Linked DNA regions of Homo sapiens: region 1 is linked to region 2. The links come from fine-mapping of genetic effects on gene expression. Tissue or cell type: whole blood. Region 2 holds a variant in brackets; the other region holds the start of a gene. All regions are shown on one strand. Distances are between the middles of the regions.

What was found.
Region 1: PAPOLA starts here. The variant in region 2 is fine-mapped to the expression of PAPOLA in whole blood (TOPMed, PIP 0.96).

The regions. Positions count from the first base shown.
Region 1 is chr14:96,499,479-96,504,855 of GRCh38, reverse strand. PAPOLA (poly(A) polymerase alpha) reads right to left here and starts at 2,474. Exons shown (of 22, transcript NM_032632.5): 1 at 2,256-2,474. The coding sequence starts at 2,263. It overlaps PAPOLA-DT (PAPOLA divergent transcript), which reads left to right and starts at 2,530. Exons shown (of 1, transcript NR_122121.1): 1 at 2,530-3,208. RefSeq lists enhancers at 1-324, 325-826, 1,982-2,577, 2,401-2,660, 2,578-3,172 and 1 more and silencers at 2,161-2,280, 2,719-3,062.
Region 2 is chr14:96,451,473-96,456,849 of GRCh38, reverse strand. AK7 (adenylate kinase 7) reads right to left here. Exons shown (of 18, transcript NM_152327.5): 10 at 5,280-5,377; 11 at 375-503. It also overlaps the pseudogene RPL23AP10. Among named protein-coding and RNA genes, the nearest start is that of PAPOLA-DT, 48 kb to the left of the region's middle. The variant G/T (reference allele first, on the strand shown) is at 2,368.

The DNA.
Region 1 (5,377 bases), 48 kb before region 2:
ATCACAATCCAACACATCAAAAAAACAACATTTATGACAGTGTGACAGCAGTACATGAAAAACAAAGCAACTTAATGAGGAAGAAGCCCTATTTTTCTTTAACTAGGCATTCTTTGGTCTCTCTATTGTTTACTACAGTAATTATCGTATACTTACTTTTTGAGTCTCGCTCTGTCACCCAGGCTGGAACGCAGTGGCATGATCAAGGCTCACTGCAGCCTCAGCCTCCTGGGCTCAAGCAGTCCTCCCACCTCAACCTCCCAAGTAGCTGGGATTACAGGCATGAGCCACCACGCCCAGCTAACTTGTGTTTTTTGTTGAGATGAAGTTTCGCCATGTTGCCCAGGCTGATCTCAAACTCCTGGCCTCAAGCGATTTACCTGCCTGGGCCTCCCAAAGTGCTGGGATTACAGGCGTGAACCACCGCGCCTGGCCCCGTCTTCCATTTTACACACTTGAACTAACTCGCGAAGAATTTGAAATACCTAAGGTCTTTCACAGAAATGTATACCTTCCCTCTTCAAAGAATGTTGGGGGAAAGTAGGTATAAAAGTACTTTTAATTCCTAGAAATAAGACACAAATTACTTAATGTTATTTCTTCATTGAAGCCTTTTAAGGTTTACATCTATCATTTTTAATGCTGGTATGATTATCAGAAAAAGAAGTCCCTTTTCAAAGACAGCAAAATGTTAACTTAATAACGCAGTCATCACGACATCACTGCAAACATTTATCTCCTATTGAACTGAGAAACACCACAACAATCTTGCTTAGACTCAGTTCTCCTAGGGTCTCTTATTCTATGAAAGGGAAAAATCAATAAACAGAAACCATGCAGATTCCAAGATTTTAGACCTGTATAGTTAGTTAAGTCTAACAAACGTTTTCATCACAGAAGTAATGTGATAGACTTCTTAATAACCTAAGGGGGTGGGTGGGAGCCATGGAAAATCCTTTTAAAATACATAAATTGCGATAGAAGTCATTAAGGTCTGTGCCAAAGTTAGAGTCTCACCTGTAAAGAAACACATTCACACACATATATAATTGTAAAACTACAATCGGTGATTATGTGCTAAAGAAATTATCCTTACTTACAAAAAAAAAATAGACCTGAGTTACTACATTCGATGTCTAGAAACCACAAAAATCTTTATCCTGAATTTAACCAAAACTTTGAGTGTCAATTACATGTTGCGTTTTGAGGCTACTAAGATGAAGAAAACTCGGTCCCTGGTCTCAAAGAGGCACTCTTACGCTTCAATATTCAAAAATGGAAGAAATGCAGTCTCACTATTTAGGCCTCTACAATGCTGTATATTTGCAGGAAAAAAAAAATCCGTAATCTACTGGCAATGAGCTGCCAAATTATATCTCATTATCAGAAAGGGGGAGGGGAGAAAAAAACTTTTTAAAAACCCACCAAGAAAAGAAAAAGGCGCAGTGGCATTAGAAAGCATAAAGAGACTAGCTTCAAGCCTTACAACCAGGAAAAAAAAAGTATCACCAGAGATAGAGAAAGAAGGAAACAGAATGAAACCTGGTTACCCCATCAAAACAAAACAGGGAAAGCAATACATAAGTCGTTTTGGAGGAGGGCACCCTGTGAAGTGCCCCCTTCTCCGACCGCCTGTGAATGCTAGGGAGGCGGAGGTGGAGGCAGGCGGACTCAACGCTCAAAGCTGGGCTTTTAACTCGTGCTCCTACATTCAGACAAGGTCAGTGGAAAGGGGCTAACTCCGGCGCACAAGACAGGCATCTGGAAATGGGAGGAAGAGAGTGAGCAAACTGAGACAGACCAGGAACAGAAAAGCAACATCGAATGGGCCCGAGGGGCGCCGAGAGCGAGCCCGAACCCCAAGTGCTGATCCCGCGTGCAGCAGGGTCGTGGTTCCCCACCACCAGGCAATGTTTTGTTTTCGGGTTGTTTTGATTTTCTTTGTGGACGGGGCGGAGAAGCTGGAGTGGCCGGGCGAGTTAGAGGTTCCGCCAGCAATTCCGGAAGGGGAAGGCCCCCGGCCCGACGGCAGCTGACCCAGCCAGGAAGGGTCGGGGGACGCGGGAACCCAGCACACGGGGGGAAGTGCGGCGGCGAGCGAGCGAGGAAACAGGAAGGTCCCCAGTCCTGCCTGCCTCCTACCAGCGGGGAGGGTCGGGCTCGCGTGCCACCCTCTCCGCCTACCTCTTCCCCTTCCCGGACGCCCCCCAAGGCCCAGCCGGCGAGCGAAAGAAAACAGAATACAAATTACTTACAACGGCATCGTCTCCGGCGCCGGCACCGCCCAGTCACTTCCCCCCCGCAACCGCCGCCGCTGCCGCCCTGGGCATGATCCACTGAGGCGGGAGGGAGGGGGGGGCCTGCCTCAGCCCTGGGTCCAACCCCTCTCCCGCACCGCTCCCGCCGCTTTAAGCGCTTCTCCTCCTTCCCCTTCGTCCTAACATGGCGCCCGAGCGCTACCACAGCAACGTTCTAGAACTGCTGACGCCACCACGCACGCCGTGCGTGCGCCTGCGCACCAGCGCCGTCCGCCGCGAAGCCTCACGGGAAGCGGAGTTCCTAAGGCCGCCTGCGGCCCGGCAATTACCCCCTGGGTCCTCTCACACTTAGCAGTGGGTGTCAGATGGTGGAAGGGAACGCTCAGGGAGGCCCCGGGCGGTGAGTTGTCCCTCGGGCGGGGACGCCCTCGTGGGCAGTGCGGCGTGGACGGCGCAAGGAAGAACCCGGAGAGATCCCAAGCCACGAGGCACCGCTTCCGGCGCATTGTGAGGTCCCACCTTTCCCGCCGCCTGAGGTCGCGGCGGCTGCTCTTTCCCGGAGCAGCGTCCCTGGAGGCGCTGCCAGGGGGTGAGGCACCCACGCGTGCACCGTATGTACCCCCCAGCGCGGCGCTTAGAACGACTCGCATGAGTCGCTGCCTTGGGTTGGAACCGGTTACTCCGCCGCTTCGTACTGGACTGCAAAGTAACAAGTACTTCGCCGGGCAGCGGTGCCGACCCCGTGTGCTACGGCGAGAGGTGCTTAGCCTAGAGCCGACGAAAACATGTCCCCAGGACTCCCTTTCCCTCCCAGACTGCGTCCCACCAGATGGAGCTTTCCGTCTGTTTTAACCACCAGTGTATTCCTGATGCCTGACCCAGGCGCTGAAATATTTGTTGAACGAATAAATGTGTAGGTTAGGACTGACGACAGTCCGCGAATTCTGGAACACGGGCTGATTTTACTTTTGAACAAATGATGCACTGGAACTTCCTGACAGAGCTGACCTTTTATAGGAACATCAATGGCAGTCACCGCTGGCATTTTAGCAAAGGTTGTCTTGGTCATAATTTCCCCTTGACTGTGTTTCCAGCCCTTAATCTATATCGGGTGGGACCTGGAAGTCTACCTTCTCGCCACCCCTCGGCAAAAGTTTGAGAAAGTGTTTGAGGCAGAGCCTCCTCTCTCATATGCCCTCCATCTGCGAATTAGAACGAATTATAAGTTCTACGGTGTCACATAGGGGGTTAGCGGAGAGGAAGAGGGAAAGAATCAAATACAGGACGCTGCCTTAACCAAAGTTCTAAACTCTAAATGTAATAATGTGCATTTGTGAGTCCTCAGGAAGTTTCACAAAGGCTTTCCCTTTTTTCACAGAATGTCTAGTAGGACTGGTGACTCCGAATGGGAAAAACACAGGACCTAGACCTGCCCTGTCCATTAGTGTAGCCCCTTGGCCACTTAGGGCCACTGAGCACTTGAAATGAGGCTAGTTCGTTTAGGAGGCACTGGAAGTGCAAAATACGCACGGGTGTCAGTTCGACGAATGTGAAATACCTCACTGATCACTTTTTATATTGATTGCACGTTGAAATATTTTGGATATATTGCAGTAAAGAAAATGTAAGCCGGGCACGGTGTCTCACACCTGTGATCCAGCACTTTAGGAGGCTGAGGTGGGAGGATCGCTTGGGCAGGAGTTAGAGACCAGCCTGGGCAATATAGGGAAACCCCCGTCTATACAAAAAGTTAAAAAAAAAAAAAAAAAAAGAAAAAAGAAAAAAAAATTAGCTGGGCATGGTAGTTCCTGCCTGTGGTCCCAGTTACTCCGGAGACTGAGGTAGGAGGATCCCTGGAGTGGGAGGTGGAGGCTGCCGTGAGTCGTCATCTCACTACTGCACTCCAGCCTGCGTTGACAGAACGAGATCCTGTCTCAAAAAAAAAAAAAAGAAAATATACTATTAAAATTAATTTTACCTGTTTTTTTAAATGTGACCACTAGAAAATTTTAAGTTATATATGTGGCCTTCATTTCCATTAAATAGTGCTGATCTGCAAACAGACTTATATTTGATTGTCATTTCTTCCATTTAGTCTCTTTTCCTCTTGTCATCAAGGTGGCTTTGGCTGGAGACCCAGTAGCATAGTTGTCCCTAAAAGACTGAAAATCTGAGATCCAGATAATTCAATAATGTATTAAGGCTATGGACTTCAAAGCAGCTTGTAAAGATATGCCCTGGGGCCTGGCACAGTGGCTCACTCACACCTGTAATCCCAGCACTTTGGGAGGCAGAGGATTCCTTGAGCTCGGGAGTTCTAGGCCACCCTGGGCAACGTGGCAAGTCGTTGTCTCTACTAAAAAAAAAAATCAAAAAAATTAGCTGGCCTTGGTGGCACACACCTGTAGTCCCAGCTACTTGGGAGGCTGAGGTTGGGAGGATCACCTGAGGCAAGGAAGTTGAGACTGCAGTGAGCCCTGATCATGCCATTGCACTCTAGCTTGGCAACAGAGCAAGACATTGTTCAAAAAAAAAAAAAAAAAATGCACTAACGATGTACTTTATGAATAAAAGAATGGGGACTTTTTCAGCTTATGTTGTCCTCTGCCAGGCATCTCAGAAGGCAGTGAAGAGAGGGACGCTAAACATCCATGCTTTTGGTCTATAATTGCTTCAAACTATTTTTGTTTCAGCCTTCCATAGAATGAGGCAGCTAGATAGCACAGCTGATGAATATTTAGTACCTAGAATGTGCTAGATATCACGCTACTTGCCTAAGGCATTTAAAAGGAACAATATTGAGGATTGAGGATGGAGTCAAGGTAGACTTCATGTAAGAGGTCACTTCAGACACGTCCTGATATGTTAGGGTTTGGTAAGTGGACAGAAGGAGTAGAAGGGCATCTCAGGTAAAGAGAACAATTTTTAAAAATAAAATGAGGCCGGGCGCAGTGGCTCACGCCTGTAATCCCAACACTTTGGGAGGCTGAGGTTGGAAGATCACTTGAGGTCAGGAGTTGGAGATCAGCCTGGCAAACATGTTGAAACCCCATCTCTACTAAAAATACAAAAATTAGTCGGGCATAGTGGTGGGCGCCTGTAATCCCAGCTACTCAAAA
Region 2 (5,377 bases):
AGGAGAAACCAGCATGACCACTCTGCCATCATCAACTAACATCCCCCGACCCCTGAGTTGGCCACGAAGAAGACGACACAAACACACACTTGTGTTCATTGCGGGTGCCAAAGCCAGCAAGCGCCACATCCAACAGGCTGTGAAGAAGCTCTCTGACGCCAGTGTGGCCAAGGTCAACACTCTTCTCAGGCCTGAGGGGGAAGAGAAGCCAGATGTTCCCCTGGCTACTGATTAGGACACCTTGGATGTTGCCAACAAAATTGGGATCATCTAAACTGCATCCAGCTGGCTAATTCGAATCATATACATCTTTATACCCTAAGAACAATACAGTAATTAATTAAAATGCCCAGGAAAATAGTTTAAAGTGTTACCAGTTTTGCTATGGCTTCAGAAATGACATCCTTCAGTTGGATGTGATGCAGTTTGTAGTAGTTGGCCAATTCTTTAGCAATACTGGATTTTCCCACAGCAGGGGGACCAAGAATGCAGATCTTGATTGGCTGAAAGAGGAGAGAGTAAGGAACATACAGCAAGCTCTGAATGATCTGTAGCTAGACAGAGTGGTTTTTTATTTCAGGGGAGTGCTTTTTTTTTTTTTTTTTTTTTTTGAGACAGAGTCTCTCACTCTGTTGCTCGGGCTGTAGTGCAGTGGCATGATCTCGCTTACTGCAACCTCCACCTCCCAGGTTCAAGCGATTCTCTGCCTCAGCCTCCCGAGTAGCTGAGACTACATGTGCGCACCACCATGCCCAGCTAATTTTTGTATTTTTTGTAGAGACGGGTTTTCTCCATGTTGGCCAGGCTGGTCTCAAACTCCTGGTCTCAAGTGATCTACCCACCTCAGCTTCCCAAAGTGCTGGGATTACAGATGTGAGCCACCACGTCTGGCTGGGAGTGCCTTTTGAAAATAAAGTCTCTGGACCCTGCAGGCTAACTCTCACTCTTCTGTGGAGACTCCAGAGTCACGCCTCTACCCCCACCACCACCACCAGGGTGACTGCCACATCATCCCGAAAGCGTCTGCCGCCTGGTCAGACAGTTCATGTTCTGGTTCATGTCCATTCATTCAGTAGGTATTCAATAGGCACCAACTACATGGGCTGATCTGGGGCTGGTGGATAGGGCCACATAAGAAGATGTATCAGGAACAACTCAGATCACTAAAGAGTAAGTGCTCAGGAATTACACACTGCCAGTTTCACAAGACAGTGCACAGTACAGGGCATTGTGCTACCTTTGGAACAGTAACAAAGCAAAGAATTTCTGGTTTGGTGTGCAAAGGGCCTAATTTACTGCCTGAATACTATTTCTGTACTGAATTTGGTCTTTAATTATTTGTTTTGTTTTGTTTTGTTTTGTATTGAGATAGGTGCTCCCACTGTTGCCCAGGCTGGAGTGTAGTGGTGCAATCACAGATCACTGCAGCCTCGAACTCCTGGGCTCAAACCATCCTCCCAGCTCAGCCTCACAAGTATCTGGGACTACAGAGGCACACCACCATGTTCGTCTGATTTTTATACTTTCTGTAGAGATGAGATCTCACTGTGTGGTTCAGGCTGGTCCCAAACTCCTGCACTCAAGGAATCCTCCCGCCTCAGCCTCCCAAAGCGTTGGGATAACAGGTGTGAGCCACTGCACCTGGCTTGGTCTTTAATTACTATTATTATTGTTACTATTTTGAGACAGAGTTTCACTCTTGTTGCCCAAGCTGGAGTGCAATGGCATGATCTCGGCTCACTGCAACCTCTGCCTCCTGGGTTCAAGCGATTCTCCTGCCTTAGCCTCCTGAGCACCTGGGATTACAGGCGCACGCCACCACACCCAGCTAATTTTTTGGTATTTTTAGTAGAAATGGGGTTTCACCATGTTAGCCAGGCTGGTCTCGAACTCCTGACCTCAGGTGATCCACCCGCCTCGACCTCCCAAAGTGGTAGGATTACAGGTGTGAGCCATCGCACCTGGCCAATTATTTTTAACACAGTTAATTTATTCTAATTTTTAGGCCAGGCATCGTGGCTCATGCCTGTAATCCCAGCAGTTTAGGAGGCTGAGGTGGGAGGATCCCTGGAGCCCAGGAGTTTGAGGCGAGCCTGAGCAATATAGTGAGGTCCCCCTCTCTACAAAAAACGAGGCCAGCTTCAGCAATATAGTGAGATCCCTGTCTCTACAAAAAAAAAAAAAAATTTTTTTTAAATATTGGCTGGGCATAGTCACATGTGCCTGTGGTCCCAGCTACTTGGTGGCCCAGGCTGAGGCAGGAGGAGTGCTTAAGCCCAGGAGGGTCTAGGCTGCAGTGAGTCGTGGTCCTACCACTGCACTCCAACCTGGGCAACAGAGCAACACCCTGTCTCAATTTTTAAAAAA[G/T]TTATTCTAATTTTTAAAAACATACTCATTAAAAAAAAAAACACCATTTCTCCTGCTGATAAACTTGATTGAATGCTAAAGAAGCCCTATGGTGTTCATAATCAATGAGTAAATATTCATTTCTAACAGAGGTCAAAATATCAGTAACATATAGTTATTTATTTCAAAATGGTCCAAATAGTTGTGAAACTGAGGGCCCATATTTTGCAAGGTAAATTTTAGAATTGCGCTCATGAAAAGGATTTGCATTGGTAGAGTGTCTGTATGCTTACAGATTATATAATTTCATCCACCAAGTTGGTTAATATCATTACTACCATTTGACAGGTGAGGAAACCAAGACAGTGAAGGAAGTAGGCAGCACACAGGATGGTTCTGGCTAGCAGCGCTGTCCCATCGGATAGGGATGATGGATGGCTCTGGCGCGTGTGGTCCCATCGGATAGGGAGGATGGATGGTTCTGGTGAGGAGTGCGGCCCCGTCAGATAGGGATGATGGCAGGCAGTGGAAGGAGGCAGGTGTGAAGGAAAGCAGTTCTGGAACTGAGTCCTGACGAGCAGGGCTGGGCCCCTGGAGAGGTGCAGTGCATTCACCAAGGCCTGAGAACCGGCTGTCAACTGAGCAAGTTCAGGTGTCTCATTTGTCCACGGACCAAGGGTGGGTCCTTTCTCCTGGCATGGGCTCACTTTATCCAGGTGTAAAACCAGGATGCCAATCTATTCATTTATTTACAATGAGAAGTATGACTGCCACTGAATCAAATACTCCAAGTCCACATATTTGGTATATTTACTCCCTTCAAGCAGATGGACACTGGGAGCCAAGTCTTATAAGGCTGCTTGATGAGCTTTGATCAGAACAAGGGGAGTAGGATGAACTGACTGGAAGCAATGGGTCAAGGTGGCTTGATGCATCTGTCTCTGAAGCAGCAATGACTTTTCCTTGCTAAAGGAACTGCGATCACGCAAGTGCATGGCTTGAGACTCCATCTTTTGGGGATGTCACTGAGTGACACCTCTGGGGCTACACTGGCCTCGGTAGTGTTTCCTGTGGCTAACTGCCCCTAGGGACAGACATACCCTATTTAGTTTTTAGATATACTATTCCTTCTATCATATTCTTGTCCAGTCTTGCTCATCGGGAACCATACGGTCTCTTCAAAGTGTCTTGTCATATTTCTACTCTGTGTGTTGTTGTTACAGTTGACCTAGAGAGGACATTAGTCTAACCTCTGAGGTTGGGTTGGTGTATATCTCAGGATAACCTCCCAGTACAGCCACCATGAGGATCTTAGATGCTTAAAGAGATCATTATTTCTTTTGCTAAGTGGTACATGTTTTGCTTATTCTTAACTAGACATGTTTTTTTTTCCAAGAGAATACGGTTCTAAGGATATGATGGTGACACTATGCTTGCTTATGTGGAGCATTCCCTCCAACAGTGATAATTATGGTTATGATGACACCTGTTACTCACATACGCCATTTTACAGTTTTCAAAACACTTTCTCATGTATGACCTACTTTTGTCTTTAGAATGTTTCCCTGGGATAAATCCAAAGCTCTACGCAGGTGCTTCATTGATCTGATTTCAGAGAGGCAGGTGTGGCGGCCCTGCAGTTAGATGCGGACATTCTAGTTAAGTCTGCGTCCTACCTAGTCTGAATCTCTGACTAGCTGTGTGACCTTGAAAAAGTTGCTACCTACTCAGGAGGCTGAGGCACTTGAACCTGGGAGGCAGAGGTTGCAGTGAGCCGAGATCCTGCCACTGCCCTGCAGCCTGGGCTATGGAGCAAGACTCTGTCTCAAAAAAAAAGAAAAGAAAAGAAAGAAAGAAAGAAAAAGAAAAAGTTGATGCAGCCAGGCACGGTGGCTCAAGCATGTAATCCCAGCACTTTGGGAGGCCAACGCAGGCGGATCGCTTGAGGCCAGGAGTTTGAAACCAGCCTGGTCCACATGGTGAAACCCCGTCTCTACTAAAATTACAAAAATTAACCAGATGTGATGGTGCACACCTGTAATCTCAGGTACTACTCAGGAGGCTGAGGCACGAGAATCACTTGAACCCAGGAGGCAAAGGTTGCTGTGAGCCGAGATCACACTGCTGCACTCCAGCCTGGGCAACAGAGTGAGACTCTGTCTGAATAAAAAAAAAAAAGGTTGCTTCATCTCTTTGAGCCTTTGTTTCCTAATCTATACTATATAGATAAGAATATCCACCTTTCACCATAAAAAATGATAAGTGTGTGAGTTAACACGGATGTTAATTAGCTCGATTTAGCCATTCCACAATGTCTACATATTTCAAAACTTTATGTTGTACAGGATACATGTATATAATCTATTTGTCCATTTCAATTAATTACTTTTTTAAAAAAGAATATCTACCTTGAAAAGTTGTGATAATTAAAATGACCAGTGAGTCCTCTGACCACTTAGAAAGAGATCAAAGTAGTAATCAGGTTTCTTCTACCTCCCACATGTATACCCAGGACTGAAACAAGCCAGCCAGTAAGGCAGTTGATATTTTTACCTATTTAATATTCTTCTTTATATGGACAACACTGCGACATCACTCTTGAGCTTGCTATCATGTGCAATTTGCGTACATTATTATCTAATGTTTAAATTAGATAATTTTGCATACATTATTAGATATTATCTAATTATTAAATTAGATAAATTTGCATACATTATTATCTAATATTTAAAACTGTTCATGTTTGGTTCACAGGTATTAATTTGATATACATGTAAATTTGTTAGACCTGGACAAATTTGTCAAATTTGAAAAACTTGAAATTAGAAATTTGAACGTCTGAAAAAGCAAATACTTCCGTTGGCATCATCACACTAGAAGTTTGATTCATTTTGCTTGAATCAGAAGTTTCAGTGGGAAACAGTGATAGTTACCATCAATCCTCTGCTTTGCTTGTACTCCTTGAGGATAGTGTTGATATTTTCCACAAATCCTGTTTGGGCAGCCCATCGAATATTAAAATTCTCCTTCA